Homo sapiens: one gene and its partners. The protein of the gene in region 3 purifies or fractionates together with the protein of the main gene of each other region. This does not show direct contact. Each region holds a gene or a part of one and is shown on either strand. Other genes may lie near its edges.

Region 1 (3,500 bases), on a different chromosome or scaffold from region 3:
GGAGAAAAAGAATTAGTCACTGCACCCAAGGTGTTTCTGCACCTTAGTCTCTGCTTCTCTCGGCCTTCATTACCAGCCCTATCCTCAGTTTTCTGTTTCCGCTACCTCTTCCTATTTGCAGGAGCTCACCTGGCTGTCTTTTTCTCTGGTCCTCCTTTGCAGAGGTGGTGCGGAGCTCCTGTTTGACGGTATTAAGAAACATCGAGTCACTTTGCCTGGACAGGAGGAACCCTGTGAGTATTGGCTTTCTGAACCCCTCTCTTGGGGCCATTGAACAGGAGTTGGTCCATGGGGAACACTCAGCCCCGTTCAGGCCTGTGTTCTGCATCCGTGTGCTAAGCTGCCTCTCTAGCAGGCAGAGGAATAAAAACAAGAGTCTACACGGCTGGGCCGGGTGGCTCATGCCTGTAATCCCAGCACTTTGGGAGGCCAAGGTGGGTGGATCACAAGGTCAGGAGTTCGAGACCAGCCTGGCCAACATGGTGAAATCCTGTCTCTATTAAAAATACAAAAATTAGCTGGGCATGGTGGCGCGTGCATGTAATCCCAGCTACTCAGGAGGCTGAGGCAGGAGAATTGCTTGAACCGGAACCTGGGAGGCGGAGGTTGCAGTGAGCCGAGATCATGCCACTGTACTCTAGCCTGGGCGACAAAGCAAGACTCCATCTCAAAAAAAAAAAAAAAAAAAAAAAAAAAAAACTTGTTAATCTTTCTTGAACAAATATACACTGAGCACCTTCTGTGTAGCAGACCATGTGCTGATCACTGTGGAGACAGACATGAACAAAAGCCAGTCCCAGGCCAGGTGTGGAGGCTCACACCTGTGATCCCAGCACTTTGGGGGGCCGAGGCGGACGGATCACTTGAGACCAGGAGTTCTAGACCAACATGGCGAAATCCCATCTCTACTAGAAATACAAAAAATTAGTCACGCATAGCGGTGCGCGCTTGTAATCCCAGCTACTCAGGAGGCTGGGGCAGGAGAATTGCTTAAACCTGGGAGGCAGAGGTTTCAGTGAGCCGAGATCGTGCCACTGCACTCCAGCCTGGGTGGCAGAGCAAGATTCTGTCACCAAAAAAAAAAAAAAAAAAAAGAATGAACTTGCAGATCTTTGGCTGGGTAACTGTCAGGATAGCCTAGGGGCTGGGGACCGGATATGGCAGGTGTTCACTGTAACCTTAGCAGTGGGTTCTAGCAAGGGCTCAGGGATGGGATTCCAGTCTCCACCTATGACTGAGATACTTCTGGGGAGAAGAGGGCATCAGTTATATTAAGAGACAGGAAATGAGGTTCCTGGAGGTGGGCGGTAGAAAATGGTCAAGTCAGGCCGGACGTGGTGGCTCACACCTTTAATCCCAGCACTTTGGGAGGCTGAGGCGGGCAGATCACGAGGTCAGGAGTTCCTGACCATCCTGATCAACATGATGAAACCCCGTCTCTACTAACAGTACAAAAATTAGCTGGCGCAGTGGCAGGCATCTGTAATCCCAGCTACTTGGGAGGCTGAAGCAGGAGAATTGCTTGAACCTGAGAGGCAGAGGTTGCAGTGAACCAAGATCGCACCATTGCACTCCAGCCTGGGCAACAAGAGCAAGACTCCGTCTCAAAAAAAGAAAAAGAAATAAGAAAATAGGCCAGGTGTTGGCTGGGCACGGTGGCTCACGCCTGTAATCCCAGCACTTTGGGAGGCCAAGGCGGGTGGATCACGAGGTCAGGAGTTCAACACTAGCCTGGCCAAGATGGTGAAACCCCGTCTCTACTAAAAATACAAAAAAATTAGCTGGGCGTGGTGGCATGCGCCTGTAATCCCGGCTACTCTGGAGGCTGAGGCACGAGAATTGCTTAAACCTAAAGGGGCGGAGGTTGCAGTGAGCCGAATCATGCCACTGCACTCCAGCCTGGGCAACAGAGCGAGACTCCATCTCAAAAAAAAATAAAATAAAATAAAATAAAATAAACCAGGCACAGTGGCTCATGCCTGTAATCCTAACACTTTGGGAGTCTGAGGTAGGAGGATTACCTGAGCCCAGGAGTTTGAGACCAGCCTGGGTAACATGGCAAAACCTGGTCTTTACAAAAAAATAAAAAATTAGCCAGGCATAGTGGCATGCACCTGTGTTCCTAGCTGTTTTAGAAGCTGATGCTGAAGGATTGCTTGAGCCCAGGAGATCGAGACTACAGTGAGCTATGATCACACACTGTTCTTCAGCCTGGGTGCCAGAGTGAGACCCTGTCTCAAAAGAAAAAAAAAATACATAAGCAGAATATGTATGGGGAGAAAAAAAGAAAATGGTCAAGTGAGATTTGGCAGGATTCTTCTGGAACTGGACACACATCTGCCAGGAATCAATTATTATTGCTCAGATTCACTGGCTGCCGCACCTCTCTGTCCCTCCCTCAGGTTGGAGAGCAGTGGCACAGGGTGGGGTCTGTCTGCCACACGTGGAGGCTGGGGGGGGGACACTTACTGAGGAGCAGGTCACTGCCCACATTGAGCTGGGAGGGGATATGTGGCTGGGGTTTCATGTCAGGATTGTGTGTCCCTGGTCGAGGAAGACATGGGGTGCTAAAGGTGACTGTTTCTTAGTTTGACAGATGGCCATGCAGCCTTGGGAGGGCACATGGTGCTCTCAGAAGAAGCTTCTCAAAGATTCAGTCTCAAAGACCTTGCCTGGAAGTTTATTAAAATATCACAAGTTATTATTTATTTCCTGTGGAGTTTGTCTGACATGAAAACCCACAAATTTTCTTTTTTTTTTCTTTTCTTTTTTTTTTTTTTGAGATGGAGTCTCGCTCTGTCTCCCAGGCTGAAGTGCCGTGGTGCAGTCTCAGCGCGCTGCAACCCCCACCTCCTGGGTTCAAGCAATTCTCCCACCTCAGCCTCCCAAGTAGCTGGGATTACAGGCAGGCACCACAACACCTGGCTAATTTGTGTATGTTTTTTTTTGTTTGTTTTGTTGTTGTTTTTGAGACGTAGTCTCGCTCTGTTGCCCAGGCTGGAATGCAGTGGCGCGATCTTGGCTGACTGCAAGCTCCGCCTCCCGGGTTCACGCCATTCTCCTGCCTCAGCCTCCCAAGTAGCTGGGACTACAGGTGCCTGCCACCACGCCCGGCTAATTTTTTGTATTTTTAGAAGAGACGGGGTTTCACCATGTTAGCCAGGATGGTCTCGATCTCCTGACCTGGTGATCCGCCCGCCTCGGCCTCCCAAAGTGCTGGGATTACAGGTGTGAGCCACCGCGCCCAGCCCCAAAGTACTTTATTCTTTCATGTAGTTGGCAAATCTATTTTGAATGCCCTCTTTGTGCCATCACTGTACTAAGTTACTGGATATTCATTAGTGAGCAAAATAGATGTGGTCCTTGCCCTAGTAGAGTTAGCAGTGTAATGGGAGTGGAGCCAGGGAATAAACAAGTAAACAAATGAATGTATAACTGCGTCATTACAACTTTTAGTAACTGGCATGAGGAGAACCAAAGGGTACTTGAATAGGACTAAT
Region 2 (3,500 bases), on a different chromosome or scaffold from region 3:
ATACACACACACACACACACACACACACACACACACACACACACATAATGTATGATGGGGATAGTGGATAAGAACTTTAACTAAAACTGCCTGGCTTTGTCACTTGTGAACTGTGTAAATTTGGTTGTCATTCATCTGTTTCTGTATCTATAAAATGAGAACAACAATAGTATCTGCATCTGGAGTTTTAGGGGTAAATAAGTCAATACATGTGAAATTTGTAGAACAAAGCCTGGCTTATAATAAGTGCTCAATAAATGTTAGCAACTATTGTATGTTAGAGCTGTATTTTAACAGCTCTGGCTTTAGAGTCAGATACCTTGAGTTGGAGTCCTGGTTCCATCTCTCTCGGGCTTTGTGCCCTTGGCTAGGTTGACAACTTGAGTCTATTTTCTCATTTGCAAAATGGAAATACTAATGCCACCATGGGGTCTGGGAGAGGAGATAATGAGATGAGGCATGGAAAGCAATAGTATATTACCCATCACTGTTGTTGCTATTATTAGTTTATGGTGCTTTAAACCTATCAAAATAGTTGTAAGTAAATGGATTTCTTGTTCTCCCAATAACAATTCTCTGAGCTAGGATAGATGTCTTTCTGGCCATTTTACAGGTGATGACACTGACATAGGGACTGAGTGGGTAGCTTAAGTTCCATGGTTACCAGGAGCAGGACCCACGTTTCCTGTCTCCCAGTCTCATCCTTTTTCCACTGACCAGGTTGGTTGCTCCCTTGGAAAGCAGTCCCTGAGAGTTGACTTAGAAGTTCAGGGGGAAGAGGTGGATGAAGGCATGTTGGATGCACAGTGAATCAGGTTGCAGTGTGAATGTTTCTCAGTGGTGTGTCTAGACTTCCCCCATCCAAAGACTAACCAGGCCTGACTCCATTTCACTTCCAAGATCAGATGAGATCGGGTGCATTCAGGGTGGTATGTCCAAAGACTGTGTCAGGGGATTTGTTTTGGAAGTGGGGTGGCATTATTAAAAACACACCGGCTTCATCCACACATTCATCACGGAAGAGGGAAAATTAGTAAGGGTTCCACCATTCAGGCTGTGGACTATAGTGTCATCCCTAAATCCTCATTATGAGGCCTACCAGGGCTTTCTTGAGCCCTGCAGGCAGCTAGCAAAGGGACTGAAAAAGAAATGAGGCCTGGGGTTGTCTGGGGAGGGAAGCTTTAGGCAGTTGCTCTGTAGGCTTGAAGGGAGGGAAATTATGGCTTTTCAAGTCCTTAGAAATTGGGCATTTGAGTGTGTACCTTTTATTATAATGGACCCTAGAATATTCAAAGGAAGTTTAGTGGAGATAGCTGACTTATTTCATTGGGCCACTGAGCTAGCAGAATTTTAGCTTCATCTTTATTCCACCTTGCAATTGTTCCATCTTATATATGCTGGTTGCCTAATAGAAGTTGATTTGGTTGAATTAATTACAAGATCAATGAGAGGTTTAAAGGTGCTTTTTTTTCAATGGAAGAGTAAAGGCAGGAGCCAAACTTGAAGGAGTTAAGAAGCAACTTGATTCCCACTGCCCATCTGCCTTTATATATCCCACTTCTTGATGCTGGCTAGTATCTTCCTTTTTTGTTTTTTCTAACTAATCTTCCTCCTCCTGACAGAAGAGTACGAATGTCTACCAAAGTTCAGCTTTTTGCATTACTTGTTTTTAACGTCAGGAACTGAATGTTGCGCAAGGATGGTTTTTGTAAAAGCCAGGGATGGCGTGGCTTCCATTTTCCTTCATTCAACTGACACCCTCCAGTTGTAATCTGATGGCTCTTACCAAGCAGCAGGCCTTGTGGGGTAAAGTAGTATAGGGCCCTTAGAATCGAACCAACTGTTGCAAGGTAGCAAATCAGCCTTCAAGTAGTTTTTAGTGTCAGCAGGAAAACAGACTGACTTCTATGTGCCACTAACTAAGAAATATTGCCAGTACTGGGGCTGAAAGATCACACATGTAAAATACCTAGTTCAGTACCTGGTAAAGAACAGTTAATTTGTGAAACATCGTGGTGGTTATTGCTCCCTGAGGCCTAATCTCTAGGGCTTTCCCCTCCTGTTCCCGTCCAGGAGTCTTGGGTGTTTGCTCTAATGCATCCTTTGCAGGGGATGGAGGAGAGGATGGCTGCCCTCTGCTCTTTCTTCTCTGGCAAACTCATCCTACTCTGGATCCCAGTTTGTACATCTATATGCTAAGGGTGTTGGACTAGTGTAGGGGCTTTTATTTGGAGTTCGCAGATAAACTGCAAAGGGGCCTATGAACTCCTTAAACCATGACAAAAATTATTCCTGTGTGTGTTATGGGCAGCCCTGCTGACTCTAATATGTGAAGAACCACCATCTTTGATGCCCCTAAGGGCATAAATCTTCTGTCATATCAGTTACTCAGGGTCCCAAAGTTTGATACACATGCTCCTGGTGGTTCACAAAATGATTTCAGGTGGTATGTGGGTGCATGTTTGTTACATTGATAATTATGTGATTAATGTTAGGGAAAAACCTAGCATATCAGAGTTGAAATTTCATGCATATTATTTCTTTGGAGGAGGCTAAGTCTTGCTTTTAAGAAAAGGTGACTTAAAAAAATGTTACATGAGTAATAGTACAAATGTGAGTTGATTCTTAAGTTTGAGATACAATGATTGGTCCCAACCCCCGACGTGGTACAGACAGAGGAGCTGAGTCCGGAGAAGTGGAGAAAAGGCCATAAAGGAAGTCGGTGGTAAATGTAGGCCAATAACCCAGTGGCCTTCTGCAAAATCATCACTCTCTATGACTGGCAGAAGTTTCTGACTCTCTCATGTCTCCTCCAAGAACACTGTCCCAGTCAGGACAGAAATCTTGCCCAGAGAGTTTACACCTTAGCCACTTTACTTGAGATGCCTAAGGCGAGGCTTTCCTTGCAGGAAAAATGAGAAATACTGAGAAAGTCTCGTCTTTGTTCCCATGCTCCCTCAATTCTGAGACGTACTTTTTTACATTTTAATGTTCCTGAAATTGGGCTGCATCTAACAAGACTGTTTTTACCTAAGGTGACAGTTATTTCCTTGCCAAAAAGCTATTAGTAAATGGATAGTAGCTTAGAATTGAGATAAAATGATTCTTTCACTATTTTTTCCTCCTCCAAAGCAAATTACACTTGAAAGTCAGGACTTCTAATACATCTGTAAACTGAAAGAAAATTTCCCTTTCATTGAAAAACTCTCATCTCAAACCATTTACCCTGCACTAAATGGGAGTTAGGAGAAATGAGTCATCAAGACAGATGTAGAGATATTAACCCAGAACCAGTTTTCTGGACTCCACCCATCTACTTTCCTAAGTTTATAAATCCTTTGCATGCATTTAGTGCCTTTCCTAGGGGTGTGCCACATAGAACCTTCTGGAAATGGCTTTCTAGAAGTTATAAATCTGGATCCTCAACTGGGGAAAAGGATGAACCATCTTCCACAGCTTCAAGTGGACTTCATTCACTTCATGTCACAGCTGCTTGATTT
Region 3 (3,500 bases):
TGTTCCCATCCCATTCAGTTTATTGAATCGAATTCAAGGCTGAATGGCGAGAGAAGCGCAGCGCCCGGCTGGCGCCCCTAGGTGGCAGTAGCGAGGCGGTGCGGCCGACCCGAGCTGTGGGTCAGGGGAAGACCAACGGAAGCCAGCCTGTGGGAGGGAAGTGAGGCTCGCTCCCTCCTCTGAACGACTCTCCCTGCTCCGCTGCTGTGTCCTGGGCCCCCGCTAGGCTCTGGAGAGTGTGCATGATGTGTGTAGGTCATCTCAGCCCACTCTGATGAGTGCTGTGAGAATTATGCCCTGGCTGATGTGGAAGCCCAGAAAAGGGACCTGGGTGGGCACAGGAGAGCCCAGAATGCTTCCTGGAGGAGAGGAGGCAGTAGCGGTGGGGAGGAGCTAACCAGGCAAAGACAATAGGGTGGGGCTTTTTAGGATACAGCCAAGCCCGGAGGTGGGAACATCGCAGTGTTCAGAGAACATCGTGTGTTCAAAGAACCACGTGGGTTCTTTAGGGACAAGAAGGCTGAGATGGGTAGTGGTGGCAGGAGTGCTCAGGTGTCCACTGGGCAGAGGGCTTGGCTGTTACCCTGCAGGTAGGCCAGGGGTGGCTACTGAGCAGTTTTAGTTCACTGCTCACCCTGGTGGAGAGGCTGGGGGGAGACAAGGAGAAACCAGTCACAGGCTGTTGCAGTACTGAGGTGGCCCCGTAATGGCTGAACCGCTTGAGGGTCAGGACTGGGACTGCTTCTATATTTTGTATGCCTGATGCTTTGCTCTGTGCCTGGCACGTGGTTGATATTTTGTCTGTGCCAGGGAAAGGAAAGATTGGCAGACTACTCAGAAGCGACTGGATCCAGGTACCTGTCAAACAGACATCTGTGGCTGGGTGTAGTGGCTCACACCTGTAACCCCAACAGCTTGGGAGGCCAAGGTGGAAGATTGCTCAAGGCCAGGAGTTCAAGACCAGCCTGGGCAACATAGCGAGATCCCATCTCTAAAAAAAAAAAAAATTTTTTTTAAGAGTGAGACGTTTATGTCAGGGGAAGGAATCACAGGAGAGGGAACAATCCTGAACAGCTCGATGGCCAGACTCATGTCACCATGAACAGAAACAGGCAGACTCAAGGAAGGGGAGTGACTAGGAGGAAGAAGATGAAGCTGGGTTTAGAGACACTGAGTTTGCAATCCCACTTAGGAGTCGGTCTAGCAGGAGGTGACAGGAATCTGAATAGGGATGGTGGCAGAGAGGTGGCAGGACGGTGAGAGATCTCACATGTCAAACTGGCAGGACATGGTGCTTGATTAGGTCCAAGGGCTAGAGAGAGGTGGCTTGGGGGACAGGTGGGGCTATGCCACCAAATGAAGTAATTCAGGGGGCGGAGGCGGTTTGAAGAGAGGGCAAGGACAGGAGGAGAGGAGATGAAGGTGTTTGTAGCTGCAGACAGGGAGGTTGGGGAGACATACATTCGCCTTGATTTTGTTCATGAAGTGGGACTAGAGACAGGTACTCACTGTACCAGGCACTGTGGAGCAAGGGGTGACATCCCCAGTGGAGGAAGCTGAAGCTCTGGGAAGGGGAGCGACTTCTGCACAGTAGTTCAGCTGATGAGCAGGAGACTTAGTGCCCAGCTCGGGCCTGCCAGGCTCCAGAGCTCAGGGTTTTTTCCTGCCATGCCCTGTTGCTTTGCACTTCTGTGTGAGATCCCTGCAGTGGCCTTTGGCCTTGACCAGCCAGAAAGAAGCCAGAGCCCTTAGCAGGGCTGTGGGGTGCCTGGACTGGGCCACAGGCCAGCCACACCTGACCTGCTCCTGCCCCGGGCTTCTCAGCCTGGCTGAAAGGGAATTGTCACTTAGCTGGAGCTGCTCCAGCCAGGCATCCTGCCCTTCTGTGGGCCATGGGCAGGGGCTTGGAAGAAGCTGGTGCCATGTCCACCTGAGACCTTGCCTTGCATGGCATTTATAACTGGGTCAGGTGGTGCTTTGGGTTTTTTCTGGCAGCAGAGCATTTCCTGAATGACCTAAGCCTTTTTTACCTGGAAGACTCAGAATGTTGCATCTGGAAAGGACCTTAAACATTATTGGGTCCAAGCCCTGTCAGATGATGTGTGAAGTGTCAAGATTGAGCCTGAAGATAGATTTGACTGTTCTAGTTTTGCTCTGGCTCAAGTGGTTTAGAATACCTGCTCCGTCATGGTGCAATGAAAGTGATTCTCATGCTTGCCTGGTGGAAAGCAGCCTCACTGCTTCACTCTTTTTCTGTCACACATAAAGACACACACATCTCTCTCCCCTGGATATGCGCTAGATGATCGACGGATGTGAACAACATCACTGATGTCACATAGACAACCAGGATTGTTTAAAATAGTGCATTGGAGTCAAAAACCTTCAGAGATCATCCAAACAAGACTTCTCCCAGAGGCCAGGCACCGACGGTGACTCTCACCTCTAAGCCCAGTGCTTGGGAGGCTGAGGTAGGAGGATCACTTGACGTCAGGAGTTAAAGACCAGCCTGAACAACATGGCGAGACACCCCCCCGCCCCCGCCTCTACAAAACATAAAAAAGCGGCCAAGCGTGGTGGCTCATGCTTGTAATCCCAGCACTTTGGGAGGCCAAGGCGGGTGGATCACCTGAGGTCAGGAGTGCCAGAGCAGCCTGGCCAACGTAGTGAAACCCTGTCTCTACTAAAAATACAAAAATTAGCCGGGCGTGGTGGCAGGTGCCTGTAATCTCAGCTACTCGGGAGGCTGAAGCCGGAGAATCACTTGAACCTAGGAGGCGGAGGTTGCAGTGAGCCAAGATCGCACCACTGCACTCCAGCCTGGGTGACAAAGCAAGACCCCCCTCTCTGCAAAACATAAAAAAGCTTAGACAGAACTACATAGAGGACTTAGTAGGACTACGTAGTGACACGCACCTGCAGTCCTAGGTACTTGGGAGGCTTAGGTGGGAGGATCACCTGAGCCTAGGAGGCCGGGGCTGCAGTGAGCCGTGATCATGCCTCTGCACTCCAGCCTGGTCTGAGAGCCAGCAGCCTCCTGTACTGCTGTGTGACACACCCTGGCTTTGCCTGGGGACTCTTAGATGGCAATGGTATAACCTGGGCCCTCAAGGTTCTCACCACTGACATTGGTCATTGAGTGTAAGGCAAATAATGATAGGAGTGGTTGGGACAGTAACAAAGGTTTACAGCAATGGCATGGAGGCACTGAGAACTAGAGTAAGTAACCTGTTGTCCTGGGGGAAGGTGGCCTTTTATTTTTTATTTTTTTGAGACAGTCTCACTCTGTTGCCCAGGCTGGAGTGCAGTGGCGTGATTTTGACTCACTGCAACCTCTGCCTCCCGCGTTCAAGTGAGTCTGCTGTCTCAGCCTCCTGAGTAGCTGGTACTACAGGCATGCACCATCACGCCCAGCTAATTTTTGTATTTTCAGTATAGACAGGGTTTCACTATGTTGGCCATGCTGGTCTCAAACTCCTGACCTCAGGTGATCCGCCTAC
Region 4 (4,147 bases), 8.3 Mb from region 3:
GTCTCAAAAAAACTCAAATGAATAAACCTCTATCCTTCCCTCCTTCACTAAAGTGGAGGTCCCCTAGGGCAGGGATCTTGTCTATCTCTTGGTTACTGTGTCCCCAGTGCCTACCCAGGGCTGGCAGACAGTTGTAACAGGAGTGACAGTCCCTGGCCAGCAGGGATATGGTGTGGGGGACAGAGGTGGAGCATTGAAGGGACCCATTGGGCAGCATTGTCCTCTGATGCCCCCGATGCTGGAGCTGTATTGGGGGAATGACTGTCATCACCGTCCTCTGAGTTACTTAATTCATTTATGGAAGTCAGTAAAGGAACCCAGCCTGCCTGTGCCTGCCGCAACTCCAACTTCTCCCAGCCACCTCTGCCTCAGTTTCCCTGCACTTGACGGGCTTATTGAGGTTGGGGAGGAGGGGGTGGGTGTCTCAAATGTCAAAGATTTAATGTGTCTTGATGTTACCACACAAAAGTTTTGTTTTGTTTGTTTTTTTGAGACAGTCTCCTCTGTCACCCAGGCTGGAGTGTAGTGGTGTGATTGTATCTCACTGCAGCCTCGACCTCCTGGGCTCAAGCGATCCTCCCACCTCAGCCTCCCACTACACCCAGCTAATTTTTTTTATTTTTTAAGAGATGGGGGCCACTGTGTTGCCCAGGCTGGTCTTGAACTCCTGGCCTCGAGTGATCCTCCTGTCTCAGCCTCCCAAAGCGGTGGGATTACAGATGTGACCCACTGCACCAGGTCTACACAAGGTGTTTTTTTTTACAGGGTGATGTGCACACGGTGGGTCCCTCTGGGTGGTCCCACAACAGATGAGGGGCCCAGCCTCACCCATCCATGAATCCTGGAGACTCCAGACTTCCCATCCATCCAGGGTTCTGCAGCCCTCTCTGAGGCTGGAGCCAATCTCCCCTTCCGTCAAGGGATCCGGGGAGACCGCCAAGCCCGGTGCTCCCCTGAGAGTCTCTGAGAGGCCCCGACACCGCCCCCGCTCCAGGTCCCCGGGATGCTCGCGCAGGCGGGAGCCCGGGGCGCCCGGGGGATCCCTGAGCGTCACGCCGCTGTTGTGGAGCGCGTGTTGACAACGTCGCCGGGGAGACGGGCGGGGGCGGGGCCCGGGAGAGGGGGAGGCGCGGCCCTGGCGGCGCGCGAGGGGCCGGGCTGTCAGCGCAAGGCCCAGGCCGCCGCAGTGGCCACGGCCGCTGCCGCCCGCCGGCTTATATACCGCGGCTAAATTTAGGCTGCGCCCGGAGCTCGTCCCCATCCGGGACGCGTTTCCGCCGCCGCCGCTTTGGCCCGGCCCCCGCGCGCGCCGCGCCTATAAGGCTTGGGCGGGCCCGGCCGCGGCCCACAGAGCCGTCCCCGCCCGCCCGCGCCCCGACCAGCCCGGCCTCGGGCAGCCACTCACCGGTGTCCCCGTCCGCGTCCTTTCTCCCCGGGTCCCGGCCATGGCGCTGAGTGAACCCATCCTGCCGTCCTTCTCCACTTTCGCCAGCCCGTGCCGCGAGCGCGGCCTGCAGGAGGTGAGGGCGGCGGGGACGGCGGGGCGGCCGGGACCGTGGGCGGCGGGCTCGGGGTAGTAGAACGTGGGCTGCGGGGTGACAGGACGCGAAGGCGGGGACTGCAGACTCAGGAGAGGAGGATGCGGGCCACGGGGATCGCGGACTTAGGGTGGTAAAAGGCAAGCAGCGCCCCCCGAGCCCCGCCGCCCGCTCACGCCCATTGCCCTGTCGCCCGCAGCGCTGGCCGCGCGCCGAACCCGAGTCCGGCGGCACCGACGACGACCTCAACAGCGTGCTGGACTTCATCCTGTCCATGGGGCTGGATGGCCTGGGCGCCGAGGCCGCCCCGGAGCCGCCGCCGCCGCCCCCGCCGCCTGCGTTCTATTACCCCGAACCCGGCGCGCCCCCGCCCTACAGCGCCCCCGCGGGTGGCCTGGTGTCTGAGCTGCTGCGACCCGAGCTGGATGCGCCGCTGGGGCCCGCACTGCACGGCCGCTTTCTGCTGGCGCCGCCCGGCCGCCTGGTCAAGGCCGAGCCCCCTGAAGCGGACGGCGGCGGCGGCTACGGCTGCGCCCCCGGGCTGACCCGTGGACCGCGCGGCCTCAAGCGCGAGGGCGCCCCGGGCCCGGCGGCTTCGTGCATGCGAGGTCCCGGGGGCCGCCCCCCGCCGCCGCCCGACACACCGCCGCTCAGCCCCGACGGCCCCGCGCGCCTGCCCGCGCCCGGTCCGCGCGCCTCCTTCCCGCCGCCTTTCGGTGGCCCTGGTTTCGGCGCGCCCGGGCCCGGCCTGCATTACGCGCCGCCTGCGCCCCCAGCCTTCGGTCTCTTCGACGACGCGGCCGCCGCCGCGGCAGCCCTGGGCCTGGCGCCCCCCGCCGCCCGCGGTCTCCTCACGCCGCCTGCGTCCCCGCTGGAGCTGCTGGAGGCCAAGCCAAAGCGCGGCCGCCGCTCTTGGCCCCGCAAACGCACCGCCACTCACACCTGCAGCTACGCGGGCTGCGGCAAGACCTACACCAAGAGTTCGCATCTGAAGGCGCATCTGCGCACGCACACAGGTGGGCGGCACGCACGAGCCAGGAGCGCAGGCGGGGGGACGCGGGAGGAGAGGTCGGATTCCCAGCGCGCGCCAGAAAATGAATTTAGGACCTCCCTTGGGGCGTGGCTCAGGGGGATCTGGCAGGTGGTGCACGCTTAGGACTCCCCAGGAGGCGTGGCTCGGGAGGTTGGTTGGGGGGGCACACAGGAACACTCCCTAAGGAAGTGTGATCCGAGAGGTTGGGGTGGGGGCTTGCACGCTTAGGACGAGGGGGGCCTCCGGAGGTTGGGAAGAGCACTTAGAAAACCTCCTGGAGGCGTGGCTAGGGAGACAGTCTCAGAAAGTTGGGGAGGGGGAGCAGGTTTAGGAGCCGCTGGGCACTTGGCTCAGAATCCCCGGGGCTGAGGCTCAGGTAGTTGGGGAGTAGGTGCGCGTTTAGGAACCCCGGGGAGATGCTGCGTCTCAGGAAGTTGGGGAGGGCGCTCAGGCTTGGGACTCCTCTGGGGACAAGGCTCAGGACCTTGGGGAGGGAGTGTTCGCTGGGAAACCTTGAGAGATTCCGTGTCTTAGAATGCTGGAGAGAGGGTGCATGCTTAGGACCCGTCGGGGAGCGTGGCTGACAACAGTGGGGAGTGGACCTTGCGCTCCTCCGACCCCCTGGGGGTGAGGATCCGGATTGTGGGGGGAGTTGGGGATGTAGGGCAAGGATCCCTCAGGGGCGCAACACTACCGCGGGGAGCGCGTCAAGGCCCTGGTTAGGGATAGGTTGCGCTCGCCGGGGTAGCCATACGTGCCCTGTCCTGGGAGGGGAACTGACGCTTACTCTCGCCCCCTCCCTGCAGGTGAGAAGCCCTACCACTGCAACTGGGACGGCTGCGGCTGGAAGTTTGCGCGCTCAGACGAGCTCACGCGCCACTACCGAAAGCACACGGGCCACCGGCCATTCCAGTGCCATCTGTGCGATCGTGCCTTCTCGCGCTCCGATCACCTGGCGCTGCACATGAAACGGCACATGTAGCCGGGACGCCCCCGCCCACCTGCGCGCGGCCGTGGCGGGTCCCACGCGCCGGGCGCGGCCCCCTCCCAAACTGTGACTGGTATTTATTGGACCCAGAGAACCGGGCCGGGCACAGCGTGGCTACAGAGGGTCTCCCTCGATGACGACGACGACGACGCCACCACCCCAGCCCCCGTCTGTGACTGAAGGCCCGGTGGGAAAAGACCACGATCCTCCTTGACGAGTTTTGTTTTTCAAAATGGTGCAATAATTTAAGTGGCATCTTCTCTCCCACCGGGTCTACACTAGAGGATCGAGGCTTGTGATGCCTTGTGAGAAATAAGGGCCTTAATTTGTACTGTCTGCGGCATTTTTTATAATATTGTATATAGTGACTGACAAATATTGTATTACTGTACATAGAGAGACAGGTGGGCATTTTTGGGCTACCTGGTTCGTTTTTATAAGATTTTGCTGGGTTGGTTTTTTTTTTAATTAAAAAGTTTTGCATCTTTTAAAAAAAATCACAGCACTGGTCTGGTTGCTTGGAACTGGGGCCTTGGGGCACTTGGGAGGAGGGGGGAGCGGAGAGTTTGATGGAGGGCAGCCCCACTA
Region 5 (3,500 bases), on a different chromosome or scaffold from region 3:
CTTGAATTCTGGGTGTGAGATCTCTTCCCCACCATATTCCTGTGTGTCACTGGCTCCCATTCGTTTCCCCCTTCAGTGATGCTCCTGCGGGCTGTCCCAGGTGGGGCTGGAGATGCCTCAGTGCTGCCCAGCCTTCCACGGGAAGGACAGGAGAAGGTGCTGGACCGCCTGGACTTTGTGCTGACCAGCCTTGTGGCGCTGCGGCGGGAGGTGGAGGAGCTGAGAAGCAGCCTGCGAGGGCTTGCGGGGGAGATTGTTGGGGAGGTCCGGTGAGTAATGCGGCTTCTTCTCCTGCTTTATCCCTCCCCTGCAGCTTTTCAGCTGGGGTGTGTTCTGGCCTTCGCTGTCTGTCTCTAAAGAATAAACCAGTTCTATAGCTTCTAGCCTAATCTGGGTTGAAGCTGTACATTTGGTACCTCGCCTTGCACATGCTCCTTGCTGCTTCTGGACTCTCATGGTTGATCTGTTGTAGCAGCTGAAGCGCTCTGTTTGCCTAACCTAGTCTGTCTGTGCGGGCTGGGCCCAGGAAGCTGCCCTGCTTGCCCTCCTGAGGGTTAGAGACTTAGGATTTTCTCTGCTTTTAGCCCTTTAATGAGGAGCAGTAGTAAGAGGCACCCCATGGTGAGCAGAAAGACAAGCTGGATGGGACCTAATGGTACCCTTCGGGATGGGGCCTGCTTTCCAGATGCCACATGGAAGAGAACCAGAGAGTGGCTCGGCGGCGAAGGTTTCCGTTTGTCCGGGAGAGGAGTGACTCCACTGGCTCCAGCTCTGTCTACTTCACGGCCTCCTCGGGAGCCACGTTCACAGATGCTGAGAGTGAAGGGGGGTGAGTTGTCTCTCTTGGAGGCAGTTATGGCTACAGCCAGGTTGTGTTTTGTAAAAGTATTATCAATGGAAAATTCAAACCAAGCTGCTGCAAATGATTTTTGGAACAGGTAAGAGTATAATAAATACAGAAGAGTTGAAACAAAAAACCCATCCAATTTATGTCATTCAGACAAATGTAGATGTTAATAGCAGTTATTGCTTGCATCTGTTATCTTAGTTTATTACATAGTTATGATATATTATTTGGGCATTTTTCTGTGTTATCACAAGGACTTGATAAGCATTGTTTGACTTTGTTCCTTTCCTTGGGTGGCTGAGCTGGTATACGGAGATGTCTAAGCACGAAGCATGCTCCTCCCTGGGAGTCACCCTCTTCCCACAGGGGAGCCTTGCCTGTGATCCTTTGCATTTTTACAGGTGGGAGGTGGATGTCCTGAGTTCTCAGTGGCCCAGGAGGGCTGACGATAGGCCTTTCTGTGAGGCGGGGCAGCTGGCAGGAGTCTGGTGGACAGCCTCCTCCAAGTCTGGTCATGCTAAGGGTGTTTTGAGTTTAAACCACTAGCACCACTTTGAAACTCTGGTCCCAAGGATAGAGTGTGATGTCAGTAGCAGCATCTGACCCATCTGACCTTATCTGCTGCTAGCTCCAGTTATTCAGGTAGCCTGTGTGAGGCCTAGAGGCCGATTTCTCCTTGTCCAGCCTTTATTCTTCTTAAGGGAAAGACTGGTGTAGAGAACAGCCAAGTTTTATGCTGGATCAGAGGAATTAGCTATAAGCAGGTACATGGAAACTAGAAGTTAAAATCAGTCCAGGTGTGGTGGTGGCTCATGGGTAATCCCAGCACTTTGGGAGGCCGAGACAGGAGGATTGCTTGAGTTCAGGAGCTTGAGACCATCCTGGACAAGGCAGCAAGACCACGTCTCTACATAAAATAACTACCTGGGGGAGGCCAAGGTGGGCGGATCACCTGAGTTCAGGAGTTTGAGACCAGTCTGGCCAACATGTCGAAACCCTGTCTCTACTAAAAATACAAAAATTAGCCAGGTGTGGTGGTGCATGCCTGTAATCCCAGCTAATCGGGAGGCTGAGGCAGGAGAATTGCTGGAACCCAGGAGGCAGAGGTTTCAGTGAGCCGAGATTGCGCCACTGCACTCCAGCCTGTGAGACAGAGTGAGACTCCATCTCAAAGAAAAAAAAAAAAAAAAAAAAAAACGAGCTGGGCATGGTGGCATGGGTCGGTAGTCCCAGCTACTTGGGAGGCCGGGAGTTTGAGGATGCAGTGAGCCATAATTGTGCCACTGCACTCCAGCCTGGGTGACAGAGTGAGACCCTGCCTCAGAAAAATAAAATACAATGTAAATACTAGGTGATAGGAATTTTTCAGCTCCATTATAATCGTATGCACCCACTGATATGCGCAGTCCGTGGTTGACTGAAATGTCATTATCACCAACGCTGGATTTGATGAGTGCTCCGGGGTCTCCAGAAACCTGTGGAGTGGTGGTGAAGAGCTCTCTGCTCTTCCATGGGGGACTGCTGTTGCCTGGGTTGTCAGATCCCTGTTATCTGCATTCTCAAGGGCAAACAGAGGTGGCCCTTTTCTATTCAATTTACCTAAATGGCTCTGGGCCAAGAGATGCTTCCAGAAGTTGTGTTAAAGAGGGGGCAAAAATGAAATTAATATTTGATACATCTGAATTGAAGAGAGAGACCGAGGAAGTAGTTGATAGTGGGCACTGAGATGTAAAGAACATCTCTGCAACCCAAGGAAGCAGGCCACTTGGGTGGGGAATTGATGTTTGAACTCTGTAAGGAGGTTGAACAGAAGGAGAGGTCACAGCTCTGCCCAAAATCAAAGAAAGCTTGAGGCCCTTCACAACTGTTTTTGTTTTTGTTTTGTTTTGTTTTGAGACAGGGTCTCACTCTGTTGCCCAGGCTGGAGTTCCATGGTGCCATCACAGCACAGCAGCCTCAACCTCTTGGGCTCAAGTGGTGCTCCTGCCTCAGCCTTCTGAATAGCTGGGACTACAGGCATGTGCCACCATGCCCAGCCAATTCTATTTATTTTTTTTGTACAGATGGGGTCTCACTGTGTTGCCCAGCCTGTTCTTGAACTCTTGGCCTCAAGCAGTTCTCCCACATCAGCCTCCAAGTGCTGAGATTACAGGTATGAACCACCGCACCTGGTCCTCTTTGTGATGATTTAAAGAAGTTGTACTAGGCCAGGCGCGGTGGCTCAGGCCTGTAATCCCAGCACGTTGGGAGGCCAAGGCAGGTAGATCACCTGAGATCAGGAGTTCAAGACCAGATGGCCAACATGGTGAAACCTCGTCTCTACTAAAAATACAAAAATTAGCCAGGCATGTTGGCAGGCACCGGTAATCCCAGCTACCTAGGAGGCGGAGGCAGAAGAATCACTTGAACCCAGGAGGTGGAGGCTGTAGTGTGCCAAGATGGCACCACTGCACTCCAGCCTCGGTGATAGAGCAGTACTCTGTCTCAAAAAAAAAAAAAATTACTGAGGCTGGGGTGTGGAGGCTCATGCCTATAATCCCAGCACTTTGGGAGGCTGAGGTGGGCAGATCACTTGAGGTCAGGAGTTCGAGACCAGCCCGGCCAACATGGTGAAACCCTGTCTCTACTAAAAATAGAAAAATTAGCTGGGCGT
Region 6 (3,500 bases), on a different chromosome or scaffold from region 3:
GGACTACAGTTGTATGCCACCATCCCTGGCTGTTAAAAATTTTTTTTGGTGCAGTGGGTTTTTCCCTATGTTGCCAAGGCTGGTCTCAAACTCCTGGGCTCAACCAGTCCTTTCACCTTGGCCTCCCAGAATGCTGGGATTATAGGTGGGAGCCACTGTGCCTGACCTTTCTTGTACATTTGTGAATTTGAAAGAGTTATATGCCAGCTTCTAAGGCATTTCTTAAAGATGAATTTTTAAATCCTGGTTTCTTTTAAGTCTTTTTGGAATAGCTATACATTAGCCAAAGTAAATTTTTTGATACAAGTTTACCTCTAAAGGAAGAGGACATTCGAATAGGGTTTTATAGCTATTTCAGTATAGGGTTTTATGATTTTCTCTTAAGGAATTTCAGAGTATGTGTCATTGTTTCAAGATTTTCTATTTACTACTTTAAAAATGGAAATAATAGGTCTTTGGTACCTTCTTGAAGGTCATATGCCACAAAGAATGCAAAAATACATGAAAGTCCTTAGTATTTGTTGTTATGGTCATTTTTTAGAGCTAATTTTATTTTTAATCATTAGCGGTTGCTTCGTTTGGAGTTCTGTTTTTATAACAATGATAGATAATATCTGCATCATATTATTGATGTAAAAAAAATCTACCTTTGAAATGAATTAGGGATGTACCATACTTTTGAATGTTTGTCATCAAACAACATTTAGCATAAACTGCATCTAGTGGCCATTGCTCTGTAATATGTAAAGACTTGTCGGTACTTTGTCCTGCTAATTAATTTGAGGATTTAGATTGTAAGCTCTGTGAGGGCAGAAAGTAATATTTTTCTCATTTTTGTAATCTTTTCTATTATTGTCTGCATAGCATAGTACTTTACACTGTATCAGAAATTGAGTATTTTGGTTTAGGCTTCTATGGTAATAGAGGTTAAGAAAGGAAATTTGGTAGACCTTTAACATTTGCTGGATTTTGACATTTTTGATTTTTGACTGAAGTCTTCAAGTTCTGTTACATGACACAAGAATGTGAAATGATTTTTTCTTTTTTTGGGAAAAGCTGGTTTTTTGTGTGCTTTATATAATTTAAAGAAAAGACTTGTTATGAAATAGTTTCAGTCATTTTCTGAATTATTGTTGAAATTAGTACAGGGTAGATTCACATGGTCAGAAAGTGTCACTTAAAGTTTTCACCTTTAGCTTATGTGGTTGATATTTATCTAATTAGAAATTAAGACCCAGAAATTTAAAAAATTCAAGCACATATTCCATTAGCTGCCAGAGCAATGTCACCACACATCCTGTAGCTTCTAGAAAACCATGTAACATATACTCATGAGGGAATGAGAGCAAGGGGAAAAGGCAAAATGTGAAACATAAGGATATATAATGTCTTAGTATAATAATGAAATAATTTTGACTTCATGTATTCCCTGAAGAGTCCACACTGTGATAACTGCTGCTTTATATTGTTATGATTACTCACAGACAGAAGCTATGTGGAAGAGAAGCAAAAAAGTAAAGGAGTAGAATAGACAGCGGAGCATGTTTTAAAATGTAAAATATAGAGTACCTGTAAAATGTAGTAGTATTTTCTTCTTATAGTAGTATTTACAGCCCTGAGAGAGAAGATTGAATTAATTACAACTTGAACACTTGACCATTTCTACTGCTGTATTTTTTGTGAAAAACGAAAATTCAAATGTTTGTTTTATTATTTCCCACTATTTTTTTTTTTTTTTGTATATGGCTTAATATGTGCCACACTTAGGTAGTATGGTAAAGATGTAAAGGTACCTAGGCTTTGGATCTAAACAGACCTATACTCAAATCTCAGTTCTTGTTAGGGCTTGTACCTTGGGCAAGTTACTAATCTTTTTTCTCACCATTAAAATGAGAATTGTGTTTAGAAGTTTGTTATGAGGACTAACTATTTATGTAAAATTCTAGATACAATGCATTTGTCCAACCCCAAGTTCACAAAAGTCTGGTCATCCCCTTTTTGTAATTATAATTTGACTCTCATGTGCTTTTATTCAAATGAGAGAGAAACATAACTTTTCATCATAGCAACAAACTTAAAATAATGTCTTTTACTTATTATTGCTTGGAATCATCAATTATTTATGCTTTTTTCCTAGTCAAAGTAAACAAGTATGGAGATACTTGGGATGAGTGAAAAATTACATCATTGGACATGAAGGAGTTTCAACATCCAGCTTCATCTAGGTGGTCATGATTACCTGCATGCTTTGAGCTCAGCAGCAGTCTTCATAAACACATTTAAAACAAGATCCTGGGTTTTTGTGGTTTGACTTCTATGGTGTTTTAAAAAAACACAGATTTTTAGTGTTAATATTGTGTAAATGTACTCACCTTAGGGATTCATTTGAATGATGGTATTATACCATGATTGTATACAGTTTGTGAAATTGTTGCAAGGGCAAAGATAACTCTTAAAAAACCGTCGAGATTACAATGCTCTAGAATCAGCATATAAGAAAATAAATGATATCTGCATGTTGAATTGGGGTGGATGGGGGGAGCAAGCATAATTTTTAAGTGTGAAGCTTTGCATCAAGAAATTATTAAAAAGCTTTTTTTCTCCAGTATTTTCTGTATTATCTTAATGTTTATGGCAAATAAAATGTAAAGGAACATGCAACAGCCCTCATCTTCCTTGATTTTATGGTTTTATTGTTTGTAATTTATTGATTTATTTTTAAGCTAGTTATAATCATGTAGGTATAGGAAATAAAGTCATCTATAATATTTCTATAATATGGCTATAATATGGCTATAAATCTATAATATGGCTGGAGGCAGTGGGCAGTGGTTCATGCCTGTAATCCCAGCACTTTGGGAGGCCGAAGTGGGAGGATTGCATGAGTCCAGGAGTTTGAGACCAGCCTGGGCAACAAAGCGAGACCCTGTCTTTACAAAAAAATAAAAATTAGCTGGCGATGGTGTCGTGTGCCTGTAGTCCTAGTTACTTAAGAGGCTGAGTTGGGAGGATCAGTTGAACCCAGTGGTTCTGGGTTGCAGTGAGCTGTGGTCACACCACTGAACTCCAGCCTGTGCGACTGAGTGAGACCCTGTGTCTAAAAAAATAAAAATATAATGAATGTGATTTATGTAGATAAATTGATAATATAGTAAATAGGTAAATGCCTTAAAAAGCATTTTTAAAGAATTTGTAAATTCTAAAACAATAAAAATTTGGTATACATCACAGAGACTGATATTATGTTAAAAAGAAAAATTGGTGTACAGTGACCCTTCGTATCTGTGGGTTCCGTATCTGCAGATTCAATCAACTGCAGATTGAAAATATTTGAGGGAGAGAAATGGATGGTTGTCTGTACTGAACTCTTGTTATTCCCAAACAATACATTGTAATAACTATTTACATAGCATTTACATTAGGCATTACAAGTAATCTATAAATGACTTAAAGTATATAGGAGGATGTGCATTGGTTATATGTAAATACTACACCATTTT
Region 7 (2,907 bases), on a different chromosome or scaffold from region 3:
TAGATGATTAAATGAAGACAAGCTGGATTGATTTGAACTGAACTTCAGGTGAAGTGGGACCTTAGCGAGGTGGAAGGCTGGAGATAGAAGCACCAAGTCCAGATAGAGACATGGAGATGACAGAGGATTTATTTTAGAATTATCTTAGGTTTCATGTTTCATAAGTTGGACAGACTCTGAAAGTTCGTAGAAGACTTTTCTATATATTTTTGAATATGGAAGACAAGTTATCAAAAATGAGAAGAAATAAACCCACTTCTGTTTTTTCAGATGTAGAAAATGTATAGAGATGGTGAGAGACTGTCCATTTGTGAGGTAAAGAAGGTGTAAAGAGAGCACATGTGTGTTTATTTTTTATTAGACAAGCTTTTGTTTTGTAGTAATGATGGGAATTCATATTTTACAGAAGAAAAATCAAAGTACTAAACATTTAGAACCCTTGTTTCTGATACTTATCTCCCATGCTGCCCTCCCTTTATTCAGTATGTGCATTTCTTACCCACTAACTGTGTATGAACCAGATAGCCATCAGCTGCCTGGATTATGTGACAGACACAGTGGCAGTCATTTGTACTGTATTTCTTTTCACCCTGGGAATCAAGATCTAAATCTACCAGAAATAGTTATTACTAAAAAACCAAGGATGCGATTTGTGACACTGTAGCCTCATCTGCTGGGTAACTGCATGCTTCTAGGGCCACTTCATTCTCTGTCATATTTTGTGTATCATAATTTCAGTGGCTACTTTATTTCTACAGTTCCTCTTGCCCATCCTCCTCAAGGAGAAAGCCTTTTTGGCAGGCTCAGGTTAGTGGCTGGCAACTAATTAGGTGACTGGCAACTAAAATTTCTTATCTGTTGCAAGAGTATCTCCTATTTATAATGGTTATCCAGTTGTTTATGTACAAATAAACGTTTTTATAAGATACTTTAAGAAAAGAAGTTATTTTTCTTTAAAAAGGAGTTCTGTTCTTTTTAAAATGGAATCTGACAGGATCTTTTGTTTTTAAGAAGTTTCATTCTTTTTTTAAGCAAAAACTACAGCTTGGAGTTTTTTAAATACATAGTGAATGTTTTGACCAAATACATGTAATTTTACTTAAACTATTTTAACAATGACTTTTCTAAGTGGAAGACCCTAATAGAAATTGACATGTCCTAGTCAGTGATATGGACTGAGAACTTGATAACAAATCCCACTGCTGGCTACTAAGAAGCTTTATCGGGTTTAATAGGGAAAAGCCTTGTACTGATACATATTGTTCATGTTTACATGTAAATGTGTACTTGTATACATAGTGTGTACTTACATGCATTACATGCATATTATGTGTGTCAAGTAAGTCACGTGTGTCCTGACTTTAATGACTCAGTGCTCATGTCTGAGGTGTTCCTTTGAGCTCTGAGGTGATGTGCATAAAAGTTTTAGTCTGCTCCCAGGTGAACCAGGTTAAATATGAGGGCTCTGGTTTAAAGCAAGGACCAGACTGCATCCTGAGGGCTTCCGTGTGCCCCTGGGATTGTGAGATAATCACATCCACATACTAACAGTCAAGTAGAGAGAAGGAAGTTGGATGGAATGAGGGGAGGACTCAGGGCTGACCCCTCTTCCAGACACCACAGAGTTTCTCTCTGTATACAAAGCCTCTGTACACATTACAAGATTCCACTTGGCCCTGTTGGAGGAATGGCTGCCGTGGCTTTCTTAATGAGCCTTGTGGATATAGCTCTGATATTACACTGTGGGTGTTGAACATGTCAGTCAGACTGGGTAGGGGTTCCTTACAGACAAAGGCCTCATCTAATTAACAGCTGCTTCACTCCACTCATTGCTTCTTTCTACTGGATCTTAACAAATGTTTATTGGGTTAAATTATAGATGATAGATGATGAAATGATACATAGTATACATAATCTTGGGATATTATTAAAGCAGAATTTTGTCTTTTCAGCAAACCATTCCTCAAGCAACTGCAGCAAAATATCCCCGGACCATTCATCCTGAAAGTAGTACCTCAGCTTCCAGATCACTTGGAACCAGATCAGCTCACACCCAGTCTCTCACAAGTGTTCATTCCATAAAAGTGGTTGACTAAAGTGAATATGTCCATAGTGGGGTCTTTTAATCCCTCTGGTCTTACCAAGGGTTAGAAGTCTTTTGGTTTTAACTTTTCCATATTGTTAGAACATCATGGAGACATCATGTTCATCTGTTCAAAATTACAAGAGGCTTTTTCAAGCTCTACCATGCTTTGTAACTATATGTAGAAATTATTTTAATGTTATTTTTTATTTAAGCAATTAAGTAAAACTTTTTTAAATTAAAAAAGAAACTGGACTTTATTTCTTTAATATGTTTAGCCTGTTGCTGATTACAGCATCAAAATATATAAATTTATTTTCACTATTTATAAAACACTAAATCATTTCCAATATTACACAGCTGTAATTCACTCAAAGTGTTGAGAGGGAACCTTACTAAAAACAAAGTATTAGAACTAGTGGAAACTAGGATATTTTTATTTTTAATTTAAAAAAGACCAAGTGTAATAATGATTTTTTTTTTTTTTTTTTTTGAGACAGAGTCTCGCTCTGTCACCCAGGTTGGAATGCAATGGTGTGACCTCGGCTCACTGCCTCCTCCTCCCATGTTCAAGCAATTCTCCTGCCCCAGCCTCCCGAGTATCTGGGATTACAAGTGCCAGCCACCATGCCCGGCTAATTTTTGTATCTTTTTTTAGTAGAGACAAGGTTTCATCATGTTGGCCAGGCTGGTCCCGAATTCCTGACCTCAAGTGATCCGCCCGCCTGAGCCTCCCAAAGTGCTGGGATTACAGGCATGAGCCACCACGCGCGGCCCCGTTTTTTGTGGCTTTAACATGTTAGTCTTCATTTTTCCAGGACTCT

What was found.
Region 1: the proteins of ELAVL1 (region 3) and URM1 purify together in Homo sapiens (co-immunoprecipitation; one study listed by IntAct). This does not show direct contact.
Region 2: the proteins of ELAVL1 (region 3) and PPP2R2B purify together in Homo sapiens (co-immunoprecipitation; one large-scale study listed by IntAct). This does not show direct contact.
Region 4: the proteins of ELAVL1 (region 3) and KLF2 purify together in Homo sapiens (affinity purification with western blotting, with the first as the bait; one study listed by BioGRID). This does not show direct contact.
Region 5: the proteins of ELAVL1 (region 3) and RMDN3 fractionate together in Homo sapiens (co-fractionation; one large-scale study listed by BioGRID). This does not show direct contact.
Region 6: the proteins of ELAVL1 (region 3) and OCIAD1 fractionate together in Homo sapiens (co-fractionation; one large-scale study listed by BioGRID). This does not show direct contact.
Region 7: the proteins of ELAVL1 (region 3) and POC5 purify together in Homo sapiens (co-immunoprecipitation; one large-scale study listed by IntAct). This does not show direct contact.

Annotation. Positions count from the first base shown.
Region 1 is NC_000009.12:128,377,874-128,381,373, forward strand, and holds part of URM1 (ubiquitin-related modifier 1), read left to right. Parts: intron 1-121; exon of another isoform or gene 122-162; coding exon 163-233; intron 234-3,500. UniProt on the Homo sapiens protein: Acts as a sulfur carrier required for 2-thiolation of mcm(5)S(2)U at tRNA wobble positions of cytosolic tRNA(Lys), tRNA(Glu) and tRNA(Gln). Serves as sulfur donor in tRNA 2-thiolation reaction by being thiocarboxylated (-COSH) at its C-terminus by MOCS3.
Region 2 is NC_000005.10:146,585,258-146,588,757, forward strand, and holds part of PPP2R2B (serine/threonine-protein phosphatase 2A 55 kDa regulatory subunit B beta isoform), read right to left. Parts: 3' UTR 1-3,500. UniProt on the Homo sapiens protein: The B regulatory subunit might modulate substrate selectivity and catalytic activity, and might also direct the localization of the catalytic enzyme to a particular subcellular compartment.
Region 3 is NC_000019.10:7,999,142-8,002,641, reverse strand, and holds part of ELAVL1 (ELAV-like protein 1), read left to right. Parts: intron 1-437; exon of another isoform or gene 438-525; coding exon of another isoform or gene 526-590; intron 591-3,500. UniProt on the Homo sapiens protein: RNA-binding protein that binds to the 3'-UTR region of mRNAs and increases their stability.
Region 4 is NC_000019.10:16,323,479-16,327,625, forward strand, and holds the start of KLF2 (Krueppel-like factor 2), read left to right. Parts: upstream 1-1,347; 5' UTR 1,348-1,445; coding exon 1,446-1,520; intron 1,521-1,737; coding exon 1,738-2,554; intron 2,555-3,377; coding exon 3,378-3,553; 3' UTR 3,554-4,147.
Region 5 is NC_000015.10:40,748,755-40,752,254, reverse strand, and holds part of RMDN3 (regulator of microtubule dynamics protein 3), read left to right. Parts: intron 1-76; coding exon 77-269; intron 270-584; exon of another isoform or gene 585-685; coding exon 686-829; intron 830-3,500.
Region 6 is NC_000004.12:48,858,588-48,862,087, forward strand, and holds the end of OCIAD1 (OCIA domain-containing protein 1), read left to right. Parts: intron 1-1,569; exon of another isoform or gene 1,570-1,616; intron 1,617-2,137; coding exon 2,138-2,175; 3' UTR 2,176-3,228; downstream 3,229-3,500. UniProt on the Homo sapiens protein: Maintains stem cell potency. Increases STAT3 phosphorylation and controls ERK phosphorylation. May act as a scaffold, increasing STAT3 recruitment onto endosomes. Involved in integrin-mediated cancer cell adhesion and colony formation in ovarian cancer.
Region 7 is NC_000005.10:75,673,624-75,676,530, reverse strand, and holds the end of POC5 (centrosomal protein POC5), read left to right. Parts: intron 1-1,952; coding exon 1,953-2,096; 3' UTR 2,097-2,407; downstream 2,408-2,907. UniProt on the Homo sapiens protein: Essential for the assembly of the distal half of centrioles, required for centriole elongation. Acts as a negative regulator of centriole elongation.